Regions from separate parts of the Homo sapiens genome. Here region 1 is linked to region 2. Evidence: fine-mapped expression QTL. A gene starts in region 2. The other region holds a variant in brackets. All regions are shown on one strand. Distances are from middle to middle.

Region 1 (16,875 bases), 49 kb after region 2:
CGGCTCCTTCCTGGGTGGGCTCCAATGACTCAGAACGAGGGCGTGCCTGGCAGCAGGACGCACAGCTGCTCCTTGGATTAGTTTATTTTTACAGTCGTCCCAGCTCGCAGCACACTGTGGCCTTGCAGCAGGTTCCGAGTTTAGTTTTCGTGTAAATGTCTCATCCTTGGCAGGTTTGGAAGGAGCGCCGTCTGCCTCAGTGGTTCCGAGTGGGGTCCCCGGACCAGCGGCCTCGGAATCACCAGGGACTCGTTAAAATGCAGATTCCCAGGCCCCTCCCCAGACCGTGGATCAGAGGCGTTGGTGGTGCGGCCCCAAAATCCGGGTCTCAGCAAGGCCTCTTGATCCACTGATGCCCACCGGGGTTTGGGGGCGAACGGCACACTCTCTCCACGTGAACTCACTGAACCGGGCGAGGGAGGCGTCTCGGGAAGGTGGGGGAAGCGGAGTCCTGTGTTCCATCTGCGGCCCTGCCACTCCTCCGTGTGGGGTCCGTCCTGGCCCTGGGTCATCGCGTGCCCACGGCAACACGGCTACGTGGTCATGTGGTCAGCCGCTGTCACCTCCTCCATCAGGGCTGCTTGGCAACAGCTTTTAACAAGGAAATCCATCCATGGCTTCAAAACAGAGCTCTCTCTTTTGGAAAAATGCAGACAAACACAAAAAGAGAAGTATGTTCACACATTTCCTTCCGGTCTCTTTTCAGCCTGCTCAGCTTCTTCCTTTTTTTTTTTTTTTTTTTTGAGACGGAGTCTCGCTCTGTCGCTCAGGCTGGAGTGCAGTGGTGCGATCTCGGCTCACTGCAAGCTCTGCCTCCTGGGTTCACGCCATTCGCCTGCCTCAGCCTCCCAAGTAGCTGGGACTACAGGCGCCCGCCACCACGCCCGGCTGATTTTTTTTTATATCTTTAGTAGAGACGGGGTTTCACCGTGTTATCCAGGATGGTCTCGATCTCCTGACCTCGTGATCTGCCAGCCTCGGCCTCCCAAATCACGCTGAGATTACAGGCGTGAGCCACGGCGCCCGGCCTCAGCTTCTTAAAAACAATCGGGTTAGAGTGAGCTTTTCACTTGGCACCACGTCACCAGCCGCATCCGGCCACCGACTCTTCTCCCACAAATGTGGACGTGCCATTGTGCGGCCGCCCTGGAGTTGGACATCGAGGATGCTCTAGATTTTTCAACATTATAAACGGCACCATGAAGGCGACTTTTCCTGTAATACTCGAGTCTTTGTTCCTCATCCCTGATGATCTCCTTAGAATGAATGACTAACAGGTGTGACAGCTAAGATTCTGGGTGCGTCTACCCAAAATTATCATCTGGGGAGGTCAGAGACGGCTCCACCCCCTGCCACAGATGGGGAGACCTTCCAGCTTTGCTCCTGTGGTCACGGCTGCTCAGGAGCAGAACTTACCCCGGACCCAGGCTCAGAAAACACCATCAAATCACAAAGACCCTGTCTCTCCAGCCAAGACCCATTTGGTCCCGTCTCTTTGAAAGCTGGGCTGGTGGGAAGGAATCCCTGGTGAACCTGCAGAAAAACATCTCACTGGGAAAGGGCGGCAGCCCCCAGCCTCAGTGGCTCCTCTAAGCCATTTTGAAAGGGGTTCCGGAGACCCAGCCAAGTGATCCCAGCCCTCCTCCCTCCTCTCTGCAGCCCCCTCTTTCCTCCCTCTCTGCAACCTCCCCTCCTCTCTGCAACCCGCTCCTCCCCTCCTTTCAGTAGCCCCATCTTTCCCTCCTCTCTGCAGCCCCCTCCTCCCTTCCTCTCTGCAGCCCCCTCCTCCCCTGCTCCTGGTGGGCACTGCCCACTGCAGTGCTGGTTCCTGCCCAGGAGCTTGTGAGGAAACTCTTTCTGCCTTCTCCGCCCACCCCAAGCCTGAGCGGTTTGCTGAATCTTCAGTCTCTGCTGTAGGGACCCAGGTCCCTGGGATCATGGCAGAATTTAAATATGCTGTTAATTTTATCTTTCATACTTAAAGGTAGAGACATACACAGTCCACACAGAGAATAGACACTTCTTTATATGTGCTTTTTTACCTACTGTACAAGCAAAGTATGTTTGTTAAAATTTTCTTTTAATATGTTGCATATGCAAAGTGGTTTTCCAAACGCTTTCACTAAACTGTTCAATGTCAACTCCTCAATGCCCTTAGGAGGAGCGTGTGTCAGAAGTTCCTGCCATTTAACAGGAAACAGTGACCCAGAAAAGCTTTGGCATCCCTGCCAACCCCGAATTAACAGCAGAGACAGCCCAGAAGCCACAGCTCCTGGCTCCTAATCTCTTTTTCTCCCTACCAGACTTTTGGGGCCCCTGAAAAGGTGGGATTGCCCCATGATAAATGTTCTATAGAGTCATCTTGGAGAAAAATGATGATGAAGTAGGTGATGATTCCTTTTTCTCTGCAGCCGGAAGAGCAGCAAGACCTGCAGTGACGTCATGTCTGTGGACGCCCAAACCCTGAAGAAGAAGATGGGCAAGCTGGCCTGTGACCCGGCCGCCCACTCCATCCTCAGCAGCCTGCTGCTCTACGTCACGGGCCGCGCAGACCGGCCCCCGGGGACAGAGGCCGGGGGGAGCAGGCCCAGCCACCAGCCCCAGACCCAGGAGGCCACCCAGCGGCCCACGCGCTTCCAGCTCCTGCAGGCCAAGTTCCTGGGCACTGGCCGGGAGCGCTACCTCAAGAGGACCAGGGAGGTGGGCCGGCTGATCTCCAAGGACAAGCAGGGGCCGGGTGGGGGCCTCGTGGGTGCCACCATCAACAAGCTCCTGGAGAAGACCAAGGAGCCGGCCCCAAAGCCCTGCCTCAGCGAGAAGCCCCGCTGGGGCCACCCGGCCGGGAAGAGCACCGTGAAAAACATCCTGAAGATATTCTTGGCCGCCGAGGAGAAGGAGGCGAAGGAGAAAGAAGCACGCGAGAAGCCCCCTGTGGAGCGGCCCAAAGCCGCCAGGGGCCTCTTGCCGAAGATCATGGGCAAGAGCTCGGTGCTGTCCAAGCTGCGGGAGAAGTTCGAGCAGAACAGCTGCCTGTGCTCCGAGGCCAGTGCGCTGAGGCTGCACACGCAGGAGCGGAAGAAGAGGAACCTGCAGAGGAAGAGGATGCACCGGCCGGAGGTGCGCGTGCTGCACACGGCCACCATGGCCAGCACCTGCGTCAAGATGCCCCCTGCCCGCTTTCTGGCCTGCACGGCTGAGCCCCTGCCGGCCCTCAGCATCGCCACCGTCGTCTGTGGCCCCAGGAGCTGGCTGTCCCACTGCACCAAAATCAGCCACTCGGAGGCAAGGCGTCCACCCAGAGGAGAAGCCAGCGTGCCCCCTAGTGCCAGGGAGACGGGGCCCAGTGGGAACAAAGCAGTGGGAAAGGGGCCCCTGGAGGAGGAGCCCCAAAGACAGCCAAGGCCCTCGAAGCCCGTGACACCCCAGGTGATGGCTCAGAGGGACGGCCACGCTGTCCCCTCGCTGGCCTTCTCTTGTGCTCCCTGCACAGGTGGAGTCCTTCCTGGCCTTGTGCCTGCATCATCCCCACTGGGACCGGCCAGCCCTTGGGGCACCGGATCAGCCGGAGGTGATGGGACTGCAGACCCCACCGCAGAGAGCACCGCAGGAGGCGTCCAGGAGGTGAGGGGAGCCAGGCTCACGTGGCCTCCTGGGCCCCCAGGCGAGTGTGCAGGGGAGGGCCCTGAAATCACCATGACTGTTTGCAGTTCAGAGGATGAAAGGGAAGGAGCAGGCTTCCCAGACCCAGGGAGAGACCCCCTCTTTGCCACCCAGAAGTATTTCCCAGAACAGAAGGTGCCGGAGCACATCCCACCCCTGAACGCTCCATCGGTCCAGGCTGCTCGGAGAACACAGCCTGCCACGGAGCCTCCACGGATAACTGTCCAAATTCCAGTTGTCCATGAAATGCCAGCCCCTCCCACCAGGCTGCAAAATATGTCAAGTGGTGAAAACAAACCTTGTATTTGTGGAGGAGAGAATGTGGTTGAAAATGCCCACACAGAATTTCCCACCGTGACTGAGAACAGAAGGGGTCACCGAGCCCCAGTGGAACTGAGCAAGCTTTCAGGGATGCAGGCGGGACTCAGCGCCTCTTCGCCGCAGGGGCCACGGGCAGCTCCGCGTCTGGCAGCAGCAAGAGGGGCTGTGGGCGCCGACCACAGTGTCCCAGAGACACTTCTGACACAGAGACTCCAGACAGATCCTGCTGGCGGGAAGGAAAACAAAGGCAGCTTTGAGAATTCACACGGTCCCAGGAATCCTGACGATATTTCAGGAGAGAGGACCTCTGAGCTCAGAGATGTGAAGCATCCGTTGCCGGAATCTAATGAAATATCAATGCAGAAGAAGGGCTCCGCAACAAATGATCCTGCAGCCTCACAAAACCTTCTGAGGGGAAACACCAGCCATGCCTCCAGCAGCCAGCAAGTGCCGTCCCCGACTGGGAGAAACCCAACAGGAGCCCCCACGTCACTGGCGGCATCATCCAAGGGGCGTACGGGGCCTGAGGGTGTCACCCCGATGGGCATGACAGTGCCCGGTGCGCTGGAGGAATGCAGAAGGCCGCTGCTAATAGAGTCTTCTCAGCCCCTGAAGGCTGCCGAGGAAATCACCAGCCATGATGTTCGCGAGAACCCACTGTCCTCATTAAATGAACCACCCAAACCAGGTATGAAAGCCTGTGGGGCGATGGCAGCTGCAGGGAGCGTTGCGAGCCGCGCCACGCCTGCACCAGCGCCAGGCAGCACCCAGAGCCCTGGAGACCGCACAGCGGGAGAGCCAGAGACGCTGGGCCAGTGGGGAAGCAGAGCCTTGTCCGAAAGCCACCCCAGAGGAGAGGCTCTCCCTCGAGACCCTCACAGCCACGGCCTCCTGGCCCCTGGGGGATCCTTGGAGCCCAAGAGTGGAGCAGCAGGGAGGAGCCTCCTGAGAGGCGTGGCCCTCGTCCAGCACCCAGAGGACATTGCGACCCTCGCCCGCCACCCGGAGGATGCTGCGGCCCTCGCCCGGCACCCAGAGGCGGCCCGATTATACATTTCAAACACATCAGCAGCCAGCAGACATACAGCAGCTGTAGGAGGCAGAAAGGATGTGGCTGTGGAAGGAAACCTTTTGGGTTTCAGCACAGAGTCTGGAATTCCTGCTTCTGATCATCCTAGGCCACAGGCAAGGAGCGTGGCAGAGTCCCCCAGCTATGGCCCTGGCCTCCCGCCGTCGCCTCCTGAGAACCCACAGGCAAAGGGCAGGGAGGGCGTCAGGTTTCCCCGTGGGGCGGAGCCTGACCATCTGCTTCCCGCAGTGCCTCCCGCGGAGGTGGACATGGGGTGGGTAGGTGGCACCCACCAGCGGGGCCCTCCCCATCTACAGGCACACCTGCCCCCTACTGCTGGTGACACACAGGCAAAGCTCCGGGCCAGTGTCCCCGAGCCTAGGACGCAGGCAGGTGAATCCCAGGAGCGTCCCCTGACACAGGCGGACCTGGGGAGGCAACAGAGTCACCAGGCACAGGAGGAGACCCCCCAGCCCGGGGATGCGGGGAAGAGGGTGGCGCCGTCGGGCTCGAAGGTTGTGCTGAACCCAGCAAAAGAGCCTCAGACATGGTGGGCACAGGATCTGGCCGGGGACAAAGGGATGGCCATTGGGGTTGGGGGCGCCTGCCAGCGCAGTGACCAAGGTCAGCAGCATCTGCAGGGACCCTGGGAGGAGCGGGGGCGGAGCACGGCGTGGGGAGAGGGCACCAGGGCTGCCAGGAACCCAGCTGTGCCTCCAGGGGAGCCCGAGGGGCCGGGAAGCCCGGCAGCCCAAGGACAGGCCCAGAAACAGGTTCAGGAATGGGACCGGGGACAGGTTCAGGGACACGCTCAAGAACAGGCCCAGTGGCAGACCCAGATAGAGGCCCAGGGGCAGGCACAGGAACAGGCTCAGGGTGGGACCCAGGGACACAGTCAGGGACAGGCCCAGAAACAGTTTCAGAATTGGGCCCAGGGACAGGCTCAGGGACACGCTCAAGAACAGGCCCAGTGGCAGACCCAGATAGAGGCCCAGGGGCAGGCACAGGAACCAGCTCAGGGTGGGGCCCAGGGACAGGTTCAGGGACAGGCCCAGAAATGGGCTCAGGGGCAGATTCAGGGACAGGCCCAGAAACAGGTTCAAGGAGAGGTTCAGAAATGGGCCCAGGAAGAGGCTCAGGGACAGGCCCAGTGGCAGACCCAGATAAAGGCCCAGAAATGGGCTCAGGAACAGACCCAGAAAGGGGCTCAGGAACGGGTTCAGGGTCAGGCCCAGAAAGGGGCTCAGGAACGGGCCCAGGAACAGGCTCAGGAGCAGACCCAGATAGAGGCTCAGGGTCAGGCCCAGAAGGGGGCTCAGGAACGGGCTCGGGAACAGGCCCAGAAAGGGGCTCAGGAACGGGCTCGGGAACAGGCCCAGAAAGGGGCTCAGGAACGGGCTCGGGAACAGGCCCAGAAAGGGGCTCAGGAGCGGGCTCGGGAACAGGCCCAGAAAGGGGCTCAGGAACGGGCTCGGGAACAGGCCCAGAAAGGGGCTCAGGAACGGGCTCGGGAACAGGCCCAGAAAGGGGCTCAGGAACGGGCTCAGGAACAGGGTCGGGAGCAGACCCACATAGAGGCTCAGGGTCAGGCCCAGAAAGGGGCTCAGGAATGGGCTCGGGATCGGGCTCGGGATCAGGGCTGGGAGCAGACCCAGATAGAGACTCAGAGGCAGACCCAGAAAGGGGCTCAGGAACGGGCTTGGGAACAGGGTCGGGAACAGGCCTTGACAAGTGGGATGGCGCCTCGGGCCTGGGAGCAGCCCATTAGTGGCATAGCTGAGGGAGTGGATGCTGCTGGCAGGAGTGGGGGGTCCAGAAGCCCAGCCCCCAGGGATGGTGGACAGTCAGGGGGCAGTGGCCTGGGGGAGCCCAGCGCCGGGTACCCACCCCCAGGAAGCCGCCCCCTCAGGGGCAAGAGCATTGCCACCTCTCCCCTGGGGCTGGGAAAGAGCCCAACTGAGCCCAAGCCTGAGGCTGGGGGCTGCGGGACTCCCCAGGCCCCGGCCCAGGAGGGGTCCCCAGACCACCCTGGGGCTGAGAGGGCCCTGCAGGACAGGATGGAGGCATCGGAGCCCGAGCGTCGCGGGAGGTCCAGGCACCTGGCCAAGTACAAAGCCCAGAGCTTCCGTGACCAGAGGGCCTTCGATTTGTCCTTCAGACCAATGAGCGTCAGGGCCAGCGACACGTCTGAGCTCCCAAAGTGAGGCCCCGAGTACACACCGTGGCTCGCCCAGCACTGTGACATCCGCCCATTGAGGGACTTCAGGCATTTTCCTGCCTCCAAATGCGTCTTGGAGCATCCCCTACAGAGACGCCTGTTTCCATAATTTTCTTTCCCTTCTTCACAAGCTGACCTTGGGAGGATTGAGCTACATGTGGGTCGGGTTCCTGTCACCCCACAGAGCCACGAGGCCATGGGGGTGGGAGGTGCGGGCCTGTGGCCTCACCAGGCCCTCGGGATTCTTTGTGTCTTCACTCGGGGGCGCCGGCTCACCCCTCTCTCACACAGCCTGCAGCGTGGAGCTCACACCTCCCGCAGTGGCACGGTGTGTGCGTCCCCTTCGATCTGCAGGATGCTGGCACTTTGGGACACCTCCCCAGCTCTCACAGGGCCACCTCCCACTGCTCCCTGCCCACACCCCACCATGCCCTGCTCTGACGTGGCCGCATGGCACCCACCATCCATGGGCCCAAAGTGATGCACACCGCCCCACCCCCATGACTCGAAAGAAAGGGCAGAGCTTCCTCCAGCCTCAGACGCCCAGGTGGGTGCCGGGTGCTGTGTGGCTGCTGGGCCATGTGGTGGTCACCAGAGGGTGTGGGGACGCTGGGATCCCAGGCCGAAACCAGCTCATCCGGAGGAAGAGGCCTCAGGAAATGCCCACGTTAAGTTCTGAGAAAGGGACAGTGCAGAGCCGTGGGAAGCCAGGATCCCAGGGAGGCTTCGTCTGGAAACTGGGTGCTGGGAGAACGAACGGGAGCCTGCCCGCCCTTCCCTGCAGTCCCTGTGGGTGGTGCCACTGGTGCCGGTGACCTGAGAGCCTCGCTGTCTGTCCTCCGTCCTCCCGAACAGCATAGAAGTGTTTCCTGCCCTGGCCCGAGACGGCCCACGACTCCGGCCCTGTTCAGGTACTGAGGTAATGCATGTTCAGGCTGGAATATTTGAATGCTGTCTAGAGGCACAAGAAGGAAATCAAAGCCACCTGTGGTCACATTGCCTCGAGATGGTTTTTGTTGCTACTCTGGACTATTTTTTAGGCTCTTCCTCCATGCACCTATTTTAAAGCACATTCTTCCCCATGATGGAGCCATGCACCTCCGTGTCGCGATCCATCGTCCCAGGCCACTCGGTGGCCTCTGAAACCCGGACCCGTGAGGCCACACGGCTGCCTGAGTGGCCCCGGAGCAGCTGGATTTTCAGCGTGAACCGATGCAGCCTGTCGCCCTACAGCCCCGCACCCTTGTTTTTGGTGGTGCCCTCCCTGTGGAAAGTTAATTCCTGCTTTTTGAAGGTGTCTTGGCATCTTCTGCCTTTGCTACTGAGCGGTTTCCTGAAACAGCCCTAAGCGTTCGCAAAGGCGCTTTGGTGCCTGCTGCGAGCACCTGTTTTCTGACTCGGATGTTCCTTTAGAGGAAGGTGTTTTCCAGTGTCGGCCCTGAGAGGGCGTTCAGCAGGCGCGTCCTACCCACGCGGGGCTGAGGTCTCTCCTTCCAGGGAAGGTCCATCCCGGCAGACGCCAGTGGCTTTGGCTCTGCAGCGCCAAGGAGGCGGCGTGGCGTCATGCTCCGGGGAGCGCACAGGTTTCCTTCCAGTCGAACAATTAACTTCAGATCCAGCAGGTTTGACCCACCCTCACCTGCTGGGACATGCGAGTGCTGGTGTCTGGAAGGAGGGCCGGGCTGTGCTGAGCTCTGGGGGGCCGGTCCCCACAGCTCCCCCGACAGGGCCCCCGGGGCCTCCTCTATAAATCAGGGGTCCGTGCTCCCAGCCCGCTTCGAGGGGTTTCTGCTTGGCGTGTGGGTTCTAAGTGCGAGCTGCTGTGTGTGGAGGCTCCTGAGCACCGGGTGCCCCTCGCGCGTGTGGGTCCCGGGGCAGCCCAGCTGCACACAGGATGGTCCGGGGGTGCGGGTGGGGGCAGAGCTGAGCATGGCGTGTACTTGGCCACAGAAGTCTTGCTGTGGTGCCGCTGGACCCCTGCTAGGAGGACAGGGTCCCCTCTCTCACGAAGCACACGGACCTCCAGAGTCCCTGCCCCTGCAGTCCTGGGAGCCTGCAGTTGGGGCTGGAGTTGGCCTCTCGGAGCCACCCAAACGGAGAGGCCCATGAGAGGGGAGCTCAGGGGTCCAGCAGAGGCTGACAGAGTGGCCTCTTTGTCCTGTTGGCGGCCCCTGCTCATGCCTGGGGCGTCCTCCCTGGAGCTGGGGGAGCTCAGGGACCCCCAGGTCTGTGTGGCTGCCCCTGCCACTCCAGGCACAGCGGCACGGCCCTCACTCTTTACCTATTTGGAATTGGAGGCAATGAGTGGCAAGAACATGATGACAGACACGGGAGGTAAAAATATGTTCACTGGCTGTTCCCTTTATAAATAAGAAGTGGTGGGACTTGCGCTGCTATTTTTAAATAGACCAGAGAGTACACTGGAGAAGGCATTGAGTGGTTTTATTTTAAGTGGTGGAAAAAATGATGAGAATCTCCTCCAGATGACAGCTCCGGAAGTGTCGTGCCTGAACCCCTCTCACAGTCTGGCGGGCGCAGAGTCTGTGAGCGGCCAGGAGGCCACCTGCTCGACTGGCCCGTCCTCTCCATGTGCCAGATGCAGCCCAGCATGACACTGCCCTCAGCTCAAAAACAGCACAGCTACTCTGTGTGCAGGAAAAAACTGCCAGTGACTTCACCAGGATTTGAGAACGGTCCGTACGTTCACACTAAGCTGAGACAGCGCAGGTTAGAAGATAGCGCGGGGAAGTATTCACACTTCAGATACGACCATCACGGCCACATGGCTAAGGCCCACACCCTCCCGGGGTGAAATAACTACAGCAGAAGAATGGGGCGCTAACCACCTCCACGGGCATTTTAAATAAAACCCAAAGTTGTTTTGTTTTTTTAAAAAAAAAAAAAAAGAAAGAAAGAAAGTGGCCGGGC[A/G]CGGTGGCTCATGCCTGTAATCCCAGCACTTTGGGAGGCCGAGGCAGACAGATCACGAGGTCAGGAGATCAAGACCATCCTGGCTAACACAGTGAAACCCTGTCTCTACTAAAAATACAAAAATTAGCCGGGCGTGGTGGTGGGTGCCTGTAGTCCCAGCTACTCGGGAGCCTGAGACAGGAGAATGGCGTGAACCCGGGAGGTGGAGCTTGCAGTGAGCCGAGATTGCGCCACTGCACTCCAGCCTGGGTGACAGAGCGAGACTCCGTCAAAAAAAAAAAAAAAAAGAAGAAAAGAAAAGAAAAGAAAACAGGATATTTATTTTAGCTTCTTAGTTAACATCATTAATTTTGTGTAGTTGAGCGACTCGTTGACTGCCTCCTCCCTGCAGTTTTTTACGGTGCCTCCGGCTGTCGACAGGCCCACTGTGAGCCGCAGGTCTGTGGGTGCAAGTGACAACAGCCGGGCGGGAGGCGGTGCACTCAGGCGGCAGGAAGGTCCCGAGACGGCGACGAGAATGTGGTCATGTTCAGGACACTCGCTCAGGGAGGGTCGTTGTCTGGGATTTTACACGCTCAGCACCACCTCCTTATTCTGTTCTCAGGGTATCTCTGCTGTTGGAGTTACGGTCTTTCGGTTGTGTATTAGGCTACAGCTATTTATTAAATTTGTTCTTGTTCATATTCTTCTTTGTATATAAACAACCCTAAAATGGGTTAGTCAGAAAAAATTACTAAATGTCATTTGTTGTATTCTCTCTGTATTTTTACTAACATCATTCAGCTGGAAATAATTTCAAAAAGAAATAAAATACCTTTCCCATTACAAATCTCTTCCTTGCATTGTTGAAGCAGCCGCATAAATGAAGTAGGACTCAGGCCTGGGGCGAGGGGCAGAGCCCCCATCGGGTGAATGTGGCCAGCCTGGAGCAGTGATCCTGGGCAGGAGGGAGGGTCTGGGGCAAGGCCCCAAGTGGGAGGAGAACTCCTTAGGATGTGCTTAGAGAGACAAGGCCATGCACTCCCCAGACCCTCTCTTGGTCCAGTCAAGACTGTGCCGGCCTCGGAGCAAGACCCAGGGAGCTGGACTTCGGCCACTGCACCTGGGCCGCGGGGGGCCAAAGGGCTGGGGTGTCCTCTGGGACACGGAGGGAGACTGGACAGAAGGGAGGGAAGGAGTATGGGTGCAACGGGCCCAGCAGGCCTGTGAGACACCCTCTGCCCTCCACTACTCTGTATGCAGGAGAACTTTGTAAGTGACTTTTCATGAGGATTTAACAACGGGTGGTTTAAGCTCACGCCAGACCTAGCTGGGAATGCCTGCATTCCAAACCCCTGCTGTGCCCGTGGGTGGCGCGGGTTCTTGGCATCTTGTGAGGAGGAAAGCTTGTTCCACTGAAACGAGCTGATGCCTCGTGTCTGAGAGCACTGGCCCGGCAGCCGAGGCTTTGGGATGGTGCAGGCACCTCTTGTCCTGAAAGAAAACCCCTGTCAATTAAGCTATGACACAGGCTTTCATTAGAACTTTTATTTTATTTTATTTCATTTATTTATTTTGAGACGGAGTCTCGCTCTGCCACCCAGGCTGGAGTGCAGTGGCGTGATCTCGGCTCACTGCAAGCTCTGCCTCCCGGGTTCACGCCACTGTCCTGCCTCAGCCTCCTCAGTAGCTGGGACTACAGGCGCCCGCCAAGACGCCCGGCTAATTTTTTGTATTTTTAGTAGAGACAGGGTTTCACCACGTTATCCAGGATGGTCTCGATCTCCTGACCTCGTGATCCGCCTGCCTCGGCCTCCCAAAGTGCTGGGATTACAGGCGTGAGCCTCTGCGACCGGCTAGAACTTTTAAAAGCACTTATTGAGGGCGTCTGTGAGACTGGTGTACATAGAAGTCTGATCAAACCCCATTCTTGGGATATTGTTATAAGCTTGGGGTAGACAAATGTTTCCCTGAACAGAAGAAAAAGCCCCAACCACAAAAGGAAGTGCCGGGACATTTGTCTGTTTGAGCGTCGGTGCATTTGCTGAATCTTTATGGCCGCCATGGATTTTTGACAGGAATGGATGTCACGTAGCCCCCAAAGCCCAGGACTGAGCAGCTGAGCAGTGCACGCCGTTTCTCTGACAGCGAGAGGACTGGCCTGGCTCAGGTCCACAACCCCAGGCGGTGTCTGGGAAGCCACTCGAAGGCACAGGAGCCTACTAGAAGCCCCATCTGTGCACACCCCAAACTCGTGAAAGTGCCGAGGCATCTTCTCCTAGAAGAACAAAGGAGGCCAAGCGGGGAGTGAAGGCAACAGTGTCTACAGTGGTCCGTTTCCAAGACAAAGTGCCTTGAATCGGCTTAAGTCAGCAAACTACAGAAGAAACAGGAGGTCCGAGGCCCCTGCCTGGATCGCCAGTGCCTGCTTGCCGGCCTCCCCTTCTCCCTCCCTTCCCCCCGGCCCTTAGGTGCTCTCACCTGAACTAAAGAAGTTTAGTCTAAGATAACAGTTTACTAGCCTGCAAAATAGCTGGCTTTGTCTGTTCTTATCAGCCTGCCCAGCTACTTAGGTCATAAGTCAAATACTTGAAGAGCCCCTGGGCTGACTGGGATTGCAATGCATTGTGGGCTGCAACAAAATGCAACAGGACACCCCTAAAAAAAACACCTACAGCCCCTGCCCAACAACCAATAGGTGACGTCCCAGAAGACTGTGACCCCAGAGTACTCAGCCTGTGAGGAACCCGGGGAGACACCTGTGCACTAGGGGATAAATTATTTGTTGAAACTGTGCTGGCTGTGGCTGCCCATCAGACACCCGATCTTGCAAGACCATCATCAACAGTCTCACTTTCAGCCAGGTGCAGTGGCTCATGCCTGTAATCCCAGCACTTTGGGAGGCTGAGGCAGGCAGATCACAAGGTCAGGAGTTCAAGACCAGCCTGACCAACATGGTGAAACCCCGTCTCTACTAAAAATAAAAAAATTAACTGAGTGTGGTGGTGTGCACCTGTAATCCCAGCTACTCAGGAGGCTGAGGCAGGAGAACTGCTTGGACCCGGGAAGCAGAGGTTGCAGTGAGCCGAGATTACGCCACTGCACTCCAGCCGGGTGACAGAGCGAGACTCTGTCTCAAAAAAAAAAAAGAAAGAAAGAAAGTCTCCCTTTCACTCTCCTCCGGGTCTCCGAGTCCTTCTTCTGGGTTTGGACAGATGAGTTTGTTTCTCACCACTTGAGACCAGGAGTTCCAGACCAGCCTGGGCAACATAGTGAGACCCCGTCTCTATTTAAAAATGAAAGTAAAATAAAAAATAAAAGAACAAAAGACCACAGGTCATGTTGTATTGAAGAGCGGAGAAAGAGCTGTTGAATTCTCTGGATGGCTGTTTCCTTACGGCCTGTACCACTGGAAGTCATGTCTTAATCCCCAACTGGAAGAAGGCGCTCAACCCACCAGCAAATCTGCACGTAGGGAAGAATTTTCCAAATCTTGAAGAAATAAGAACCCAAAAAAAGCACCAAATAAGTTACAGATTTCCATTGCTCAATCAATAATGATGATGATAAAATAATCAAGAAGCCGGGTGCGGTGGCAGCACCTGTGGTCCCAGCTACTCAGGAGGCTGAGGTGGGGGGATCACGTAAGCCTCGGAGTTTGAGGCCAGCCTAGAAACATAGCAAGATCTTGTATCTTAAAAAAAAATGAATAAAATGTTAAAAAATAAAACAAAATAAGAAACTGATGAAATTCTTGGACTTTGATAACGGCAGGAAGCCGCACACATACAGGAAGAACAAAGTCCAGAAAGAGCTGACGGTGGACGCCCAAGAGAAGAGGCGGCTTCTGCGAGCTCTGTGTCGTTAGGAAGGGAACTCGGCTTCATTTCAAATTCCAAAGGGGCTCAAACATATGAATAAGACCCCAGTCTTTCATGGGAGCCCCAAAAGTGGGGCTATTTTTCTACGTTTTGACAGCTCCCCACAACATGAATCCTGTCTTCTCTCTGCACGGCAGTCCCACATCCCACATCCCCAGCCTTCCTTGCTGCTGGGACGCATGCAGCTCTGCCAGGGAGACGCAACCTCCCCAGGCCGGCAGGGCACAGCAGGTTCTGGGCCCACGGTGAGGACGAGCCGGTGATATGGAGTCTCCTGGGTGTGCAGAGAAAGATGTTTCCAGGGAAGCTGAGAGAAGGAAGCTCATTAGCCAGTGCAGAGCTGGGCTTGGAGGCCTTTCCTCTAGTCCTGCAAGGAGCTGGGAGCTGTCACACTGCTCACCATGTCCCTTTCTGCTCAAATTCCCCAGGATGGATTCTGCCCCCTGCACTCAAGAAAACACAGGGGGCCGGGCGCGGTGGCTCACGCCTGTTATCCCAGCACTTTGGGAGGCCAAGAAAGGCGGATCACGAGGTCAGGAGATAGAGACCATCCTGGCTAACACGGTGAAACCCCGTCTCTACTAAAAATACAAAAAAATTAGCCGGGCGTGGTGGTGGGTGCCTGTGGTTCCGGCTACTCGGGAGGCTGAGGCAGGAGAATGGCGTGAACCTGGTAGGCGGAGCTTGCAGTGAGCCGAGATTGTGCCACTGCACTCCAGCCTGGACGACAGAGCAAGACTCCGTCTCAAAAAAAAAAAAAAAAAAAAAAAAAGAACACACAGGGGCGCCCCCATCAAAACCCACAGCAGACGTGCTGTATCGGACCACATACTGGAGCACACGGGGCTGTCCCCATCAACATCCACGGTGGACGTGCCGTATCGGACCACATACTGCGTGCGTGGTGGTCAAAGACATGAAGTTGAACTCTCATGGGTCTATCAAGTTGAGAACCAAAACCCCCAATTTTTAAAAGGAATCGGTAACACTCACTACCTCTGAGGATGTACGGAGACAGTCATTCCTGATGGGACCAAACATTGGCCCTTCCTTTTTATAAAGCAATTTGGCAATAATGTCAAGAACCTTTAGAAGGGGTGGCTCCTCAGCCCAGCAATTCCAGCTTTGAGAAACTGTATTTAGGAAAAGCAATCTGTCCAGCGTGGTACTACTCAAGATACAGCCATAAGTGACACAAATGTCCACCAATTAAGAGATTAGTTGGCCAGGCGCGGTGGCTCACGCCTGTAATCCCAGCACTTTGGGAGGCCGAGGCGGGCGGATCACGAAGTCAGGAGTTCAAGACCAGCCTGGCCAACACAGTGAAACCCCGTGTCTACTAAAAATACAAAAAATTAGCTGGGCGTGGTGGCGGGCACCTGTAATCCCAGCTACTAGGGAGGCTGAGGCAGGAGAATCGCTTGAACCCAGGAGGCGGAGGTTGCGGTGAGACGAGATCACACCATTGCACTCCAGCCTGGGCAACATTGCAAGACTCCCTCTCAAAAAAAAAAAAGAGATTAGTTAAATAAAGTGTGGTGTCTTATTCAGTGAAATAGCAGTCATTTAAAATTAGCTGAGGAAGAACTTTGTGAAATGGAAAATATTGTACCATTTAATGTTTAAAATCCAATATAAGGCCGGGCGCAGTGGCTCATGCCTGTAATCCCAGCACTTTGGGAGGCCAAGGAGGGTGGATCACCTGAGGTCAGGAGTTCGAGATCAGCCCGGCCAACATGGGGAAACCCCATCTCTACTAAAAATACAGAAATTAGCTGGACATGGTGGCGGCGGACGCCTGTAATCCCAGCTACTCAGGAGGCTGAGGCAGGAGAATCGCTTGAACCCAGGAGGCAGAGGTTACAGTGAGCCGAGATGGCGCCATTGCACTCCAGCCTGGGCAACAAGAGTGAAGCTACACCTCAAAAAGAAAAAAAAAATCCAGTATAAAATAGTAGATTCAAATATGTAAATACGTGTGAAGGGGGCAAAGAAAGAGAAACGCGAAAAAAGGTGAGCAGTGGTTATCCACGAACACCCGATGTGTAGGTGTGTTTTCCCGTCGTTATCTGTCACTGCTTTCTGCGTTAATTTAAATGCACTTGCATCACTTTCAGGATCAGAAAATAAAGGCCTATGTGTGACCCTGGGGCGCTGGCGGGGGCTGGACGGAGGCCCAATGCCCCTGTTGCCCATTGTCTCCAGGCTTCTCCAGGACTCGGCTTCCCGCCTCTCCTTTGGGGACCGCACGAGTCACTGGGGGAGGCTCCGCGGGCAGCAGGTCTCTGGGAGGGGTTGTCGCCCCCTCGGTGCGCAGGGGAGCGACGGGTCCCTCCTGCACCTGCAGGGACAGGCCTCGGGCTGCACCGTCCCGCGCCCGCCTACCCCGCGCCCGCCTCGCCGGACGCCTCCTGCCTGAGTCCGCCAGGGGGCGCTGCCGGCCTCCCGGGCGGCGGCTGCTGCAAGAGGAAGCCCCGGCCCGCGAGCTGCTGCCACATCCGGACGCCGCCGGGAGCCGCCGGGAGCCGCCGGGGTGGGCGGGAGTCGGGGCGGCGCGCAGGTTCCCGGCCCCCTAAGGGACGGTTGCCTTCCCCAGAGCCGGGGACACAGGCGTACGTGCGGGGACCTCGGCGCTGGCCTCCGGGCTTCTGGAGCCCCTCCCTGGTGCGGAGCGGGGACGGTGACCTCCTCGTGGATTCTGGGAGGGGCAGCCTTGGCATCAGGACCTGGAAGCCGGAGAGGCTGCAGGGCTTCCAGCCATGGCCTTGCCACCGGAGGTCACGTAGTGTTTCCACATTTCCTTAGTGTGTACATGTGTG
Region 2 (12,117 bases):
CATTTTATGGTTCTCAATCCCCATGTAGCTTTGCATAGCAACGGCACACGTGGCACGATTCCAGCAGAGTTTATCTCACACCGTTTATATATCACTGGGCCTCTCTTACTTAAATATTATTTGACCTGCCTGAGAAGCTTCATAAAGTATGTTTTTTTAAAATATATTTTAATTACATTTAAAAAGACATTTTTCCATGAAAAACATTTATTTTATGAGTGATGAATTATAGATTTTAAAATCAAGGCCGGGCGTGGTGGCTCACACCTGTAATCCCAGCATTTTGGGAGGCCGAGGCAGGTGGATCACCTGAGGTCAGGAGTTTGAGACCAGCCTGGCCAACATGGTGAAACCCTGTCTCTACTAAAAATACAAAAATTAGCCGGGCATGGTGGCACATGCCTGTAATCCCAGCTACTCAGGAGGCTGAGGCAGGAGATTCGCTTGAACTCAGGAGACGGAGGTTACAGTGAGTCGAGATCGCGCCACTGCACTCCAGCCTGGACGACAGAGTGAGATTCTGTCTCAAAATAAATACATACATACATACAATAAAACCGAATGAGCTGGTTCTTTCCATCCTCTTGTGGTACCCGTAGTGCCCAGCATCCAGACCTTTGTGCCCCTGTGCACATTTGGAAGCTAAAATGTACATCGTTGTCTGAAAAAACCCAACCCCAAAACCTTCATCTGATTGGTGAGCTGAAGTCTGTCCTTGCACCATGTTATCATCTGTTTCTCGTGTCCGCCTGGTTGAGGAGGACCCACGAGTGCTGCCGAGGTGTGGAGGGCTGGTATTGAGTTGTGGACATCACTGTTGACCCTACCTCACGTGCCGAGACTCTCATGTCACAGGCGTGCCTTGCTGCCCCCCTGCAGCACTGTGCAGGACGTGGACCAGCTGGAGCTGCTGCCCAGCACAGAGGAGAGTCGCCGCAGATGACCTAGCTGCGGTGTGAGAGAGCATGGCCCAGACAAGCAGCTGGGTTGGCTTCTGAGAACAGGACTTACCCTGGGCTTCAGGAACATCTGATGGCTGAGGTTAGTGTGCTTGGAGGCTGCAGGACGAACTGTCGATGTTTCTTAGCAGAGATGGTCACAGAGGGCAGCAGGGACAGGACTGGAAGGGACCTGCAGCCTGCAGACCCCGCCTGGCCCCCGCTGGCTTCTGGCTGGTCCAGTGATGGGCAAGTGACAGACCTTCCCCAGGCTCTGCTTCCAGAACTCTAATGGGAAACTGGGCCTGTCTACCTTTAGAAGTCTTCGATTCTCAGAGAGCATTTGTCTAATACAATAAAAACTGGCATTAATACAAACCTCAAAAACGTGAGCGTATCTTCCAGGCTTCATGGATTCTTGACATGTAATTGTTTTGTTCAGAAAAGTTTATAGAATTCACATAATTCTGTATAAACTATGGAGATCCACAGTACTTTTTTGTTTTTGAGATTTAAAGTTCTAAGGGATTGTCAATAGATATCAAAATATTAATCATTGGACAAAGGCTTTTCCAAAAATTGTGGGTTTTTTTCTTCTGTTGTATCCATTTGAGTCCTGCATGCTGTGAAATGCTGAGAACAGAAGCATTAAATTGGTTTTTCTCGGGCGTGGTTTCCTTTCGATTCTCCTCAGCTGCAGGGATGTCTGCCTATAGGTGTCAGCATCCACGTCATTGTCCCAGGATGAGAGAACAGCCCCCAGCTAGCAACCAGCGGGCAAGCCCCTGCCCCCGTGTGTGGCCCGCCAGCCCTGGCCAGGTAACCAGGTCCTCAGGTACCTTCTGTCATTGCGTTGCCTCTCAGCGGTGCACCGTGCACCTGATGGGGTGGCTCATGTGAGGAATGAGAGATCTCACAATAGGCAGGATTTACGGGAGTGTGTCGGGGCAGGAGGTCATGTGTGCCAGCACAAACTGCTGGAAACCGTCCCTTATCGGAGGCAAACGGCCAAGCACGGGGGTCTGAGGATCATGTGCTACCTGCCGATTCACGGTGCACCTGCCAGCGTTCCGGAATCAACAACGCCAGCTCCTCTCAGTGACATTGTACATGTCATTGTGTTATTTTCGCTTGAAGTTTATATCCATTTTAGACCTCAGGCTTCTTGGGGCCAAGAATAAACTTTCTTCTGATCCTTGTTGCTGTGTCCACAGTTTCAGGTACAAAGTAGGGGCTCTGCAAATATTTGTTGGATAAACGAGCTAACCTTATCCCGTCCTGTTTGCTGAGGGAGCCAGCTAGTGCTCTTGGCAAAGGTTTCCGCCGCCTGCGAACTGAAGCGCTCAGCGAGCGGGCTGTGTTAATCCCCTCAGCAGCACACGCTTCGGCCCCACAGTGCAGTTGTGCCTAAAACAGGTGAGAGTTTGAACGAAGGGCCGCCCCTCCTGTCTGTCTTGTTTGGATAGGGACCCTGCGTGCATGCTGTTTTTTGTTTTGGAGTTTTGTTTGTTTGTTTGTTTGTTTCTGAGACAGAGTTTTGCTCTTGTTGCCCAGGCTGGAGTGCAATGGCGTGATCTCGGCTCACTGCAACCTCTGCCTCCTAGGTTCAAGTGATCCTCCTATCTCAGCCTCCCAAGTAGCTGGGATTACAGGTGCCCACCACCATGCCCGGCTAATTTTTGTATTTTTAGTAGAGACGGGGTTTCATCATATTGGTCAGGCTGGCCTCAAAATCCTGAGCTCAGGGGATCCGCCCGCCTCGGCCTCCCAAAGTGCTGGGATTACAGCCATGAGCCACCGCGCCCGGCCTGCATGCTGGTTTTGAAGTTTGTTTCTGAATCTCAGGATCATGCTAGCTGGCATGACTGTGCTGATGGCTGCCTCCACCAGCAGACAGTGGAGGGTGAGGTGAACTCACTGCTTGAGATCCTCCGTTTTAACAAGTGCTGATATAACGCCAGGCGGTTAAATGCTTCCTACTGTCTCGCTGTACACTACGAGAGTTTTTATCAGACGCATTTCTTCAGTCCAGGTGTAACTCTTTGCTTCCCCTGGGTCTGATGGAAACCAGGCCCCGAGGAAGGAGACGGGAGAGACACAGCCCTGCTGGGCTCCCGGCCTCTGCGGAGAACTGTCCTGGGGTGGGGTCGGGAGATGGACTGTTTTCCTAATTTATTTCAAACCAGGAACCCTGGCTGTGTGCATTCTGCCTCACCCCCCGTCTCCATATTTTTTAATATTCTTTTCATGAGCTAGCAGGGATGATGTAAATACACTGAGCTGACCGAGGGCCGGATGGGAGGTTCTAGTGAAGCCTGCGGTTTGCTGACGACTTTCCCCCTCAGTGCAGTCCAATTATTTGGGAGCCGTTAAACACCGCATGCTGAGAAGACACCGTCATTGTTCACACAGGAGCTAGATAGACTTTGTTCCCTCTACACTGCATTTTTTAAAAGTTTTCTATCAAAAACACATTTCATAATCGAAAAGTTTTCTAAATGATAAAACCGCATGTCACAGATTAATCTCAACATTATGTTGAGTGAAGGAAGCCAGACACCGAAGGCCACACATTGTATTTGAAATGTCCAGGAAAGGCAGAACTGTAGAGACAGCAGATGGGTTGTTGCCCGAGGGGTGAGGGCACGCCCCGCAGCGGGCGGCAGTGACAGGCACGCCTGCACACATCTGCTCCCGCATCACCCCACGCCACACACGGGGAAGTGTGCGCACTCCTTCCAGGGACAGCGAGAGGAGCCCCTGCTCTGTCAACGCTCTGAATGTGCTGCGGCTGCCGGCAGAAGCTAGCAGGCTCCTCTGCTGAGGAGCTGGTGCCTGTCCAGACGCAGAAGAAAACTGACACCTCCCACGTGGGGGACAGAAAGGTCCTCTCATTGGTGCCACCTGCAGAGATAGACAAGGAGCGCCTGGCCATCAGAGGACGCTCCTGACAGTGACACAGTGACCACTATAAAAGTCAGGCGGGCTGAGGAGGAGACAAAGGCCAGGACGCTCCGCAGCTGTTGGGGAAGAGGAGCTGCCTCCTGGGATGGAGAAATTTAAGGCTGCGATGTTGCTGGGGAGCGTCGGCGATGCTCTTGGCTACAGAAATGTCTGCAAGGAGAACAGCACTGTAGGCATGAAGATCCAGGAGGAGCTGCAACGTTCCGGGGGCCTGGACCACCTCGTACTCTCGCCAGGAGAATGGCCCGTGAGTGACAACACCATCATGCACATCGCAACCGCCGAGGCCCTCACCACAGGTAGGCTGGGCCCACCGCGCTCCGGTGTGCGGGCTGGAGGGAACACTGGCTGCTCGAGTTCTCCCAGTAAGCCTCCGAGAGCTTTGAAGGCAGTGCGGTCCTTCAGCGGATGGTGTTACCTGATACCGCTGCTAAAAGTGGCAATTTAATCTGAGTGTCCCTCAAATTTGATATGCGGCAGATCACGTTTCTCCTGTGGTTTCTCTGAGGGTGACAGTATTACTTTACTTTGCAGTTATTAAGATTCAGTTTTTAAACGTGACTTTTCACTTGTATTTGTAAAGCGTTAACTAGGCCTAGCACCTTCTGTTTCTAATAGAGTTAAAGCCAGTGAAGCCTCTCTCGGCCGTGCTGGTGGGAGTAGGGTGAGGGCTCACTTCTCGCTGCAGAGATTAAGCCTTCTTGTTCTGAATTCATTACAAAGGGATGTAAAATAAGCCAGTTTGAAATGTGAACCCATTAATACTGTTTGGGGATTAGTTCTAAATTCCAATGAATTAAAGTTAGAATATCATCTCCCAAAATGGTTCAGCTTGGAGAGTTGCCCATACACAAATGTGTTCTAAGAAAATGACATAAACTTGATTGGACGAGATTGGAGACAAAGCTTCTTAAAATACCTTTAAGTAGCAAATTGATTTTAGGATCAAGCTTTTGCATGAATTTCAGGGAAATGGCAGGTGCACAGACATGCAGTCCAGCTTTCCTACGAGGCATTTGCTCTTCAAAACCCCGTGGGTGCTGTTTATCATGGCAGAATTAAAATCTGAGGGCTGCAGCTAAGTCAATGAAATCTCACTTATGCGTTCACTCCACCATTCTGTTCATCTGCCATGGACGTGCCCAGTTTAGTTCTGTGCTCACAGCAGAGGAATGCCATCGAGCCTGTGGCCGGTCCCTAAATAACGGGAGAGCTGAAGCGCCGGCGATAAGATAAGGCTCCCGGCTTGCTGGAGACGGGGAGGCGTCCGACTGTTCACAGCCTTGGCGTCCAGGAGCTCCTGCTTCTGGTTTTCCAGGCGGCCACTCGTGTGCCCTTAGGACCAGCAACCCCATGCTTGTGCCCCGCAGCCCAGAACAGGTGCACCCCACACACAGACACCTGTGGGACACAGCTCCGGCTTGTTTTCACCGTAGACGGCTGGAGCTCACTCTTGAGTTTGGCTTCCTCTGGGCGTCTGATGCCGTGTGTGCGCTCATACCAGCTCTGCATGTCCCATTTCTGGTAGCACTTGGTGGGCGTTTTGTAAATGGCAGCGTCCATGGCTGTGGGTCTGGTCCTGCCAGGCCCGCAGGGAGGGCAGCGGCACAGGACACTCCAAAAGTGCACCGACGGAGATCGGCCCAACAGGACACGAAATTCACACAGTTAAAAGGGTTACGGACGTTTAGGGCACTGTTTTTTGTTTGTTTTTTGAGACGGAGTCTTTCTCCATCGCCCAGGCTGGAGTGCAGTGGCGTGATCTCAGCTCACTGCAACCTCCACCTCCCAGGTTCAAGTGATTCTCCTGCCTCAGCCTCCTGAGTAGCTGGGGCTACAGGTGCCCACCACCACGCCCGGCTGATTTTTGTATTTTTAGTAGAGACGGGGTTTCACCACGTTGTCCAGGCTGGTCTCGAACTCCTGACCTCAAGTGATCCACCCACCTCAGCTTCCCAAAGTGCTGGGATGACAGGCGTGAGCCACCATGGGGCGCTATTCTTAAGGAGGAAGTAAGTTTGCTCTAAGCTCTCAGGGTCCTCAGCTGTGGACTGGAAGGGAGGGTTCACTGTGCTGCTGCAGCGTCTAGTTTGTGGGTCATGAGAAAATACGCATCCAAGATCACCCCTGGAATTGCTTACTGTGGGCGGCAAGCCACCCAGGCACTGAGGCAAGAGACAGAGGACACGAGCTGTTCCAGTATAATAAAACAAGAATAGTTATACCAGATATAGATCTTAGATATGATTATATATGAATATCATTAATCATTAGTTTGTAGCAATTACTTTTTATTCCAATATTATGATAATCCTCGCTCTATAATCATAGCCTAGGAAAAACCAGGCCATACAGAGATAGGAGCTGAGGGGACATAGTGAGGTGTGACCAGAAGACAAGAGTGCGAGCCTTCTGTTATGCCCGGACAGGGCCACCAGATGGCTCCTTGGTCTAGCTGTGACGCCAGCGTCTGGGAAGACGCCCGTTACCAGGCGGATCGTGGTCCAGCAGTAGCAAAAGGTGGCAAGGAACAACACCTGCTACTTAGCAGACCAGGAAGGGGGGGGGGGTCTCCCTTTCCCCAGGGGAGTTTAGAGAAGACTGCTCTTCCACCTCTTGTGGAGGGCCTGACATGAGTCAGGCTCGCCCGCAGTTATCCGGAGGCCTAACCGTCTCCCTGTGATGCTGTGCTTCAGTGGTCACACTCCTAGTCTGCCTTCATGTTCCATCCTGTACACCTGGCTCTGCCTTCTAGATAGCAGTAGTAAATTAGTGAAAAATTAGTACTATCAGTACTAATAGTCCCTGATATGCAGAAATAATGGCATAAGCTGTCTTTCTCTCTGTCTCCTCTCCCTCTCTGCCTCGGCTGCCAGGCAGGGAAGGGCCCCCTGTCCAGTGGACACGTGACCCACATGACCTTACCTACCATTGGAGGTGACTCGCATTCTTTACCCTGCCCCTTCTGCCTTGTATCCAATAAATAACAGTGCAGCCAGACATTCGGGGCCACTACCGGTCTCCGTGCATTGGTAGTAGTGGTCCCCCGGGCCCAGCTGCCTTTTCTCTTATCTCTTGTCTTGTGTCTTTATTTCTACACTCTCTCGTCACTGCACACAGGGAGAGACCCACCGACCCTGTGGGGCTGGTCCCTACAGCTTACCCCTCTAGAAACCAAAGCAAGCAGATTTTTTTCAACTCACTAAAAATCAAAGTCGAAATTTCACTTAAGTTTATCTTTGTTCTTTAAATAACAAATTGTAGCCTATGGAAGGGGGTCTTTAAGCTGTGTTAACAATGGTGAGGGCTGGGCACAGTGGCTCACGTCTGCAATCCCAGCATTGTGGGAGGCCACGGTGGGCAGATTGCCTGAGCCCAGGAGTTCTAGATCAGCCTAGGAAACATAGCAAGACTCCATCTCTACAAAACGACAATGGTGAGTGCTGACTCCACAGCACTTCTGTACCAGGCATTGTTCCAGCTGCTTCACGCATGTTATCCTCCACACATGCTCCTCACATCACCGTGGAGGCTGATTTTATCACAATCTTACAGGAGAAAAAATTGACATACAGAGAGGTTCAGGCGCTTGCCCAGTGCCACACAGCCCAGCGAGTGGCAGAGCTTGGACGGGAACCAGAGAATCTGGCCCCTGTGCTCGTAAGCATCCTCCCTGACTGCTGAGATCACGGTGGCCTGCAGGTATCCTAACAATTGCAGTGTGCAGGGGCTCTTCAGCATGCTTTCCAAAGACAGGCAGACTTTTACAAATGGAACTACGTTTGGCAGCTTTAAGTAAGCTGCACTGAAAAGTCCTTCACCCCACGAGCCACGGGGCTGTGTGGTCTGGCAAACCCTGGCTCTGCTGCTAGAGTGAGCACAGGTCTGAGGGTCGGGGCAGCCTGTGTGGCTCCCTCCTTCCGGGTGAGCCTCTCTGAACCGGGCTGCCTCCTTCCGGGTGTGTCTCTCTGAACGGGGCTCCCTCCTTCCGGGTGAGCCTCTGAACAGGGCTGTCTCCTTCTGGGTGAGCCTCTCTGAACCGGGCTGCCTCCTTCCGGGTGTGTCTCTCTGAACGGGGCTCACTCCTTCCAGGTGTGTCTCTCTGAACAGGGCTGCCTCCTTCCGGGTGAGCCTCTCTGAACAGGGTCCCTCCTTCCGGGTGTGTCTCTCTGAACAGGGCTCCCTCCTTCCGGGTGAGCCTCTCTGACCGGGGCTCACTCCTTCCGGGTGTGTCTCTCTGAACAGGGTCCCTCCTTCCCGGTGAGCCTCTCTGACTGGGGCTGCCTCCTTCCGGGTGAGCCTCTCTGACTGGGGCTGCCTCCTTCCGGGTGAGCCTCTCTGACTGGGGCTGCCTCCTTCCGGGTGAGCCTCTCTGAACAGGGCACGAGAGCAGACTCTGAACCAGGAAGTAGCCGTGTCTAGCGCTCTACAAGACACATAGGAGAGGTGGCATCCATGGCCCTGAAACGACAAGCCCATGTTGCCAGCGCATTATCACCAAGTCACTTGGCAAGCGTTTAGCAGGTGTGTGTGTGTGCCAGGCCTGGGGAGGGGCGGCCTCGCACAGAGAGCTCGGCCATTGCTCGGGTATGCAGCTGGCCATTCCCAGCTCCCTACCCCCACTCCCTGGGAAAACTGGGGAAGTGGCTTCCCTCCCAGGGCCTTCCTCCCTCACAAGGTCACAGAGGATTAAACGGAGCAACCAGCAAAGTGTGAGGAAGCACTTAGGCCAGTGTGGGAAGTTGGTGCAGGCCCGTGTGGCCGAAGGCACATCTGACATGTCTCTGCCCTGAGGCTCACTCAGCCAACTTCAGGGCCCAGCAGGATGGCGGGAGGTGTCACCTGGCCACAGCCTCCAGGGCACAGGGCCAGCACCTTCTCAGCCTCTCCCGGGGCCCTGATAACTGGGAGTGGCACTTCAGCTCATGGCAGAAAACGTTTGGAAACAGTTGACATTTTGCTACAAGATCACTGGATGTTAGTATTTTGCCTTTTCTTTATTGAGACATGGGTTGGGAGACTCAGGCACCATTTTTTTTTTTTTTTTTTTTTTTTTTGGGACATAGTCTCACTCTTTTGCCCGGGCTGGAGTACAGTGGCGCGATCTCGGCTCACTGCAACCTCCACCTCCTGAGTTCAAGCGATTCTCCTGCCTCAGCCTCCTGAGAGGCTGGGCTAACTTTGTATTTTTAGTAGAGACGGGGGTTTCACTATGTTGCCCAGGCTGGTCTCGAACTCCTGACCTTATGATCTGCCCATCCCAGCCTCCCAAAGTGCTGGGATTACAGGTGTGAGCCACTGCACCCGGCCCCTCAGGCAGCTTTAGAAACTGATTTGTCTTTCAGGAGACCAGACAGGGAAGACAGGAGACAGGAGTGGAGTGTCCCAAAGGAAAGAGACCCGGGGAGAAGCCCAAGGGTAGCAGCTTTGAAAATCTGTTTCTCGCTTAAATTCTAACCTGAAAAGACAATGCTGTTTGTGCCATTTTGTTTTATGGCTTCTGTTTGCTTTGAAAAGGCTAAATTTCAGTTGAATACAGACATTTCATGTCTAATTCCAGAATAAAATGAATCCTTTTAGGGGACTCAGGAAGGGCTAGGCTTGTTAACCCAGGACTGAGTTGAGAAAGGCTGTTTGTGGATCCACTGTGCCGGTGACTGTGAGGGGCACACACTGGGTTTAGACACAGCCTGGACAAAGCCACGCAGCTGTACCCCCATCCAGGGGTTTCGGGTGCAGGCGAAGGTGACCTTAATTCCTGCAGGAATGCAGCCCTCACACCTCTCCTATGAGACTGCAGGACTCGTGTCTCCCAAACCACAGTCTTGCCACATTCTCTCTCCTCCCTGACTCAGAACTGGGGTGATGAACATGGCGTCATGTAAAACAATACTGTGCATGCACACAACACCATGTGTGCAGACAACATGTGTGTAGACACCATACACATACAATGTGCATGTAGACACCATGCACACAAAACACCGTGAGTGTAGACACCATGCACACACAACACCATGAGTGTAGACACCATGCACACACAACACCGTGCATGTAGACACCATACACACACACCACCATGAGTGTAGACACCATGCACACACAACACCGTGCATGTAGACGCCATGCACACACAACACCTTGCATGTAGACGCCATACACACACAACACCGTGAGTGTAGACGCCATGCACACACAACACCGTGCGTGTAGACGCCATGCACACACAACACCGTGCGTGTAGACGCCATGCACACACAACACCGTGCGTGTAGACGCCATGCACACACAACACCGTGCGTGTAGACGCCATGCACACACAACACCGTGCGTGTAGACGCCATGCACACACAACACCGTGAGTGTAGACGCCATGCACATACAACTTGCATGTAGACACCATGCACACACAACACCGTGACTGTAGACACCATGCACACACACCATGCATGTAGACACCATGCACACACAACACCGTGCATGTAGACACCATACACACACAACACCGTGCATGTAGACACCATGCACACACAACACCGTGCATGTAGACACCATGCACACACAACACCGTGAGTGTAGACACCATGCACATACAACTTGCATGTAGACACCATGCACACACAACACCGTGACTGTAGACACCATGCACACACACCGTGCATGTAGACACCATGCACACACAACACCGTGCATGTAGACAACACTGTGCGTGTAGACAATACTGTGCATATAGACAAAGCCATGCCTGTATGACAACACGGTGCATGTAAACACCCTGTGTTTACACAGCGCAATGCTATGCATTTATGACAATATCATACATGCAGGACAGACAATACCATGTGTGTAGACAACACCATGCACATACAACACTGCGCATGTAGACACCAGGTGTGTTGGCAACACTGTGCATGTGGATAACACTGTGCACATAAGACAACACTGTGCATGTAGACAACACCGTGAGAGTAGACAATGCTGTGAGTATAGACAACGCCGTGCCCATATGACAACACCGTGCATGTAGACAACACTGTGCACAGGCCAGCCGGCCACGCCTCCCAGGACTGCCCCTCTCTTCAGAGGCCTCTGCTGGGCCGGGTCAGGGAACTGGTGGTAGGAGGACACAACATACAGTCCTTGTCCTGAGCACTTCTCCGGGGGTTTGCAGCCACGGGAGCCCTCTCTCTCTGGGGGGTTCACAGCCATGGGGCCCTGAGTGCTCTCTCTGGGAGGTTCACAGCCACTGGGCCCTGTGCACTCTCTCTGGGGGGTTTGCAGCTGCAGGGCCCTGAGCGCTCTCTAGGGGGTTCACAGCCAAGGGGCCCTGCTTGTTTTCTCTGGAGGGTTTGCAGCTGCGGGCCCTGCGTGCTCTCTGGGGGGGAGGGGGGAGGGGGGGCCTGCAGCTGTGGGGCCCTGCGTACTCTCTCTGTGGTAGGAGGTGAGGAGGTTTGCAGCCGCCGGGCCCTGCACGCTCTCTCTGTGGGGTTTGCAGCCGCTGGGCCCCAAGCACTCTCTCTGGGGGGTGTGCAGCCTCAGGATCCTGTGCACTCTCTCCAGGGGTTTGCAGCCATGGTCCCTACACGTGCGTGCTCTCTCCAGGGGTTTGCAGCCATGGTCCCTACACGCGCGTGCTCTCTCCAGGGGTTTGCAGCCATGGGGGCCCTGTATGCTCTCGCCAGGGGTTTGCAGCTACAGAGGTTTCATGTCCTGGAGGAGGAGTGACTTTGCCAAGTGCCCTTCCTAATCTCACCAACCCATCCATGCTAGGACATCTGGCTCTGATGCGGCTGAAAAAGGCCCCAGCCACCAGCAGGAAGGTCTTTTGCTTCCAAGTGCCATTTCTGCCCCATGGAGGGTGGGCCAAGCCTCCATCTTCGCCTCCCTCTCCCCATTCATTCCCACCCCTCCCCTCCCCAAAGGTGGGGAATTCATCACCAAGGAAAAGGGAGCAGTGGCGTCTCCCGGGGCTGACCCGCAAGCCCAGAGTGCAGTTTTAGTACAAAATGAAAACAAGTTGCTGGGTGTTAAAGTGGCCGTTGGGAGGGGCGCCCTCGCCGGCCCCACCTGGTGGGCATCCGCCTGCCACAGCCTGTCCTGGCATGGCCAGGCACCAGGGCTCTGATTTTAGAGGCTGTGTGGACTCCATCCACACACTGCGGGTTACTTAATCACAGAAATGCTCGGGCTTTGCAGGCAAACACCTTTGTCAGCT

Direction of the effects. Alleles are on the strand shown, and positions count from the first base shown. SD is a standard deviation of normalised expression in the study named.
In carriers of allele G in region 1, the expression in prefrontal cortex of the gene that starts at base 3,937 in region 2 tends to be lower than with A alone (moderate effect, 0.47 SD a copy in CommonMind).

Evidence for each region. PIP is the estimated chance that this variant, and not a neighbour inherited with it, causes the effect.
Region 1: its variant is fine-mapped to the expression of ADPRHL1 in prefrontal cortex (CommonMind, PIP 0.95).

The regions. Positions count from the first base shown.
Region 1 is chr13:113,393,757-113,410,631 of GRCh38, reverse strand. ADPRHL1 (ADP-ribosylhydrolase like 1) reads left to right here. Exons shown (of 8, transcript NM_001394807.1): 8 at 2,412-11,021. The coding sequence ends at 7,254. Among named protein-coding and RNA genes, the nearest start is that of GRTP1, 38 kb to the right of the region's middle. RefSeq lists enhancers at 1-221, 1-466, 2,655-3,340, 4,458-5,252, 16,628-16,875 and silencers at 12,304-12,598, 16,241-16,350, 16,361-16,710. The variant A/G (reference allele first, on the strand shown) is at 10,197.
Region 2 is chr13:113,445,308-113,457,424 of GRCh38, reverse strand. It overlaps ADPRHL1 (ADP-ribosylhydrolase like 1), which reads left to right and starts at 3,937. Exons shown (of 8, transcript NM_001394807.1): 1 at 3,937-4,201. The coding sequence starts at 3,988. It overlaps DCUN1D2 (defective in cullin neddylation 1 domain containing 2), which reads left to right. Exons shown (of 7, transcript NM_001014283.2): 7 at 1-1,606. RefSeq lists enhancers at 477-1,407, 5,404-5,905, 7,907-8,266, 10,594-11,535 and a silencer at 11,235-11,334.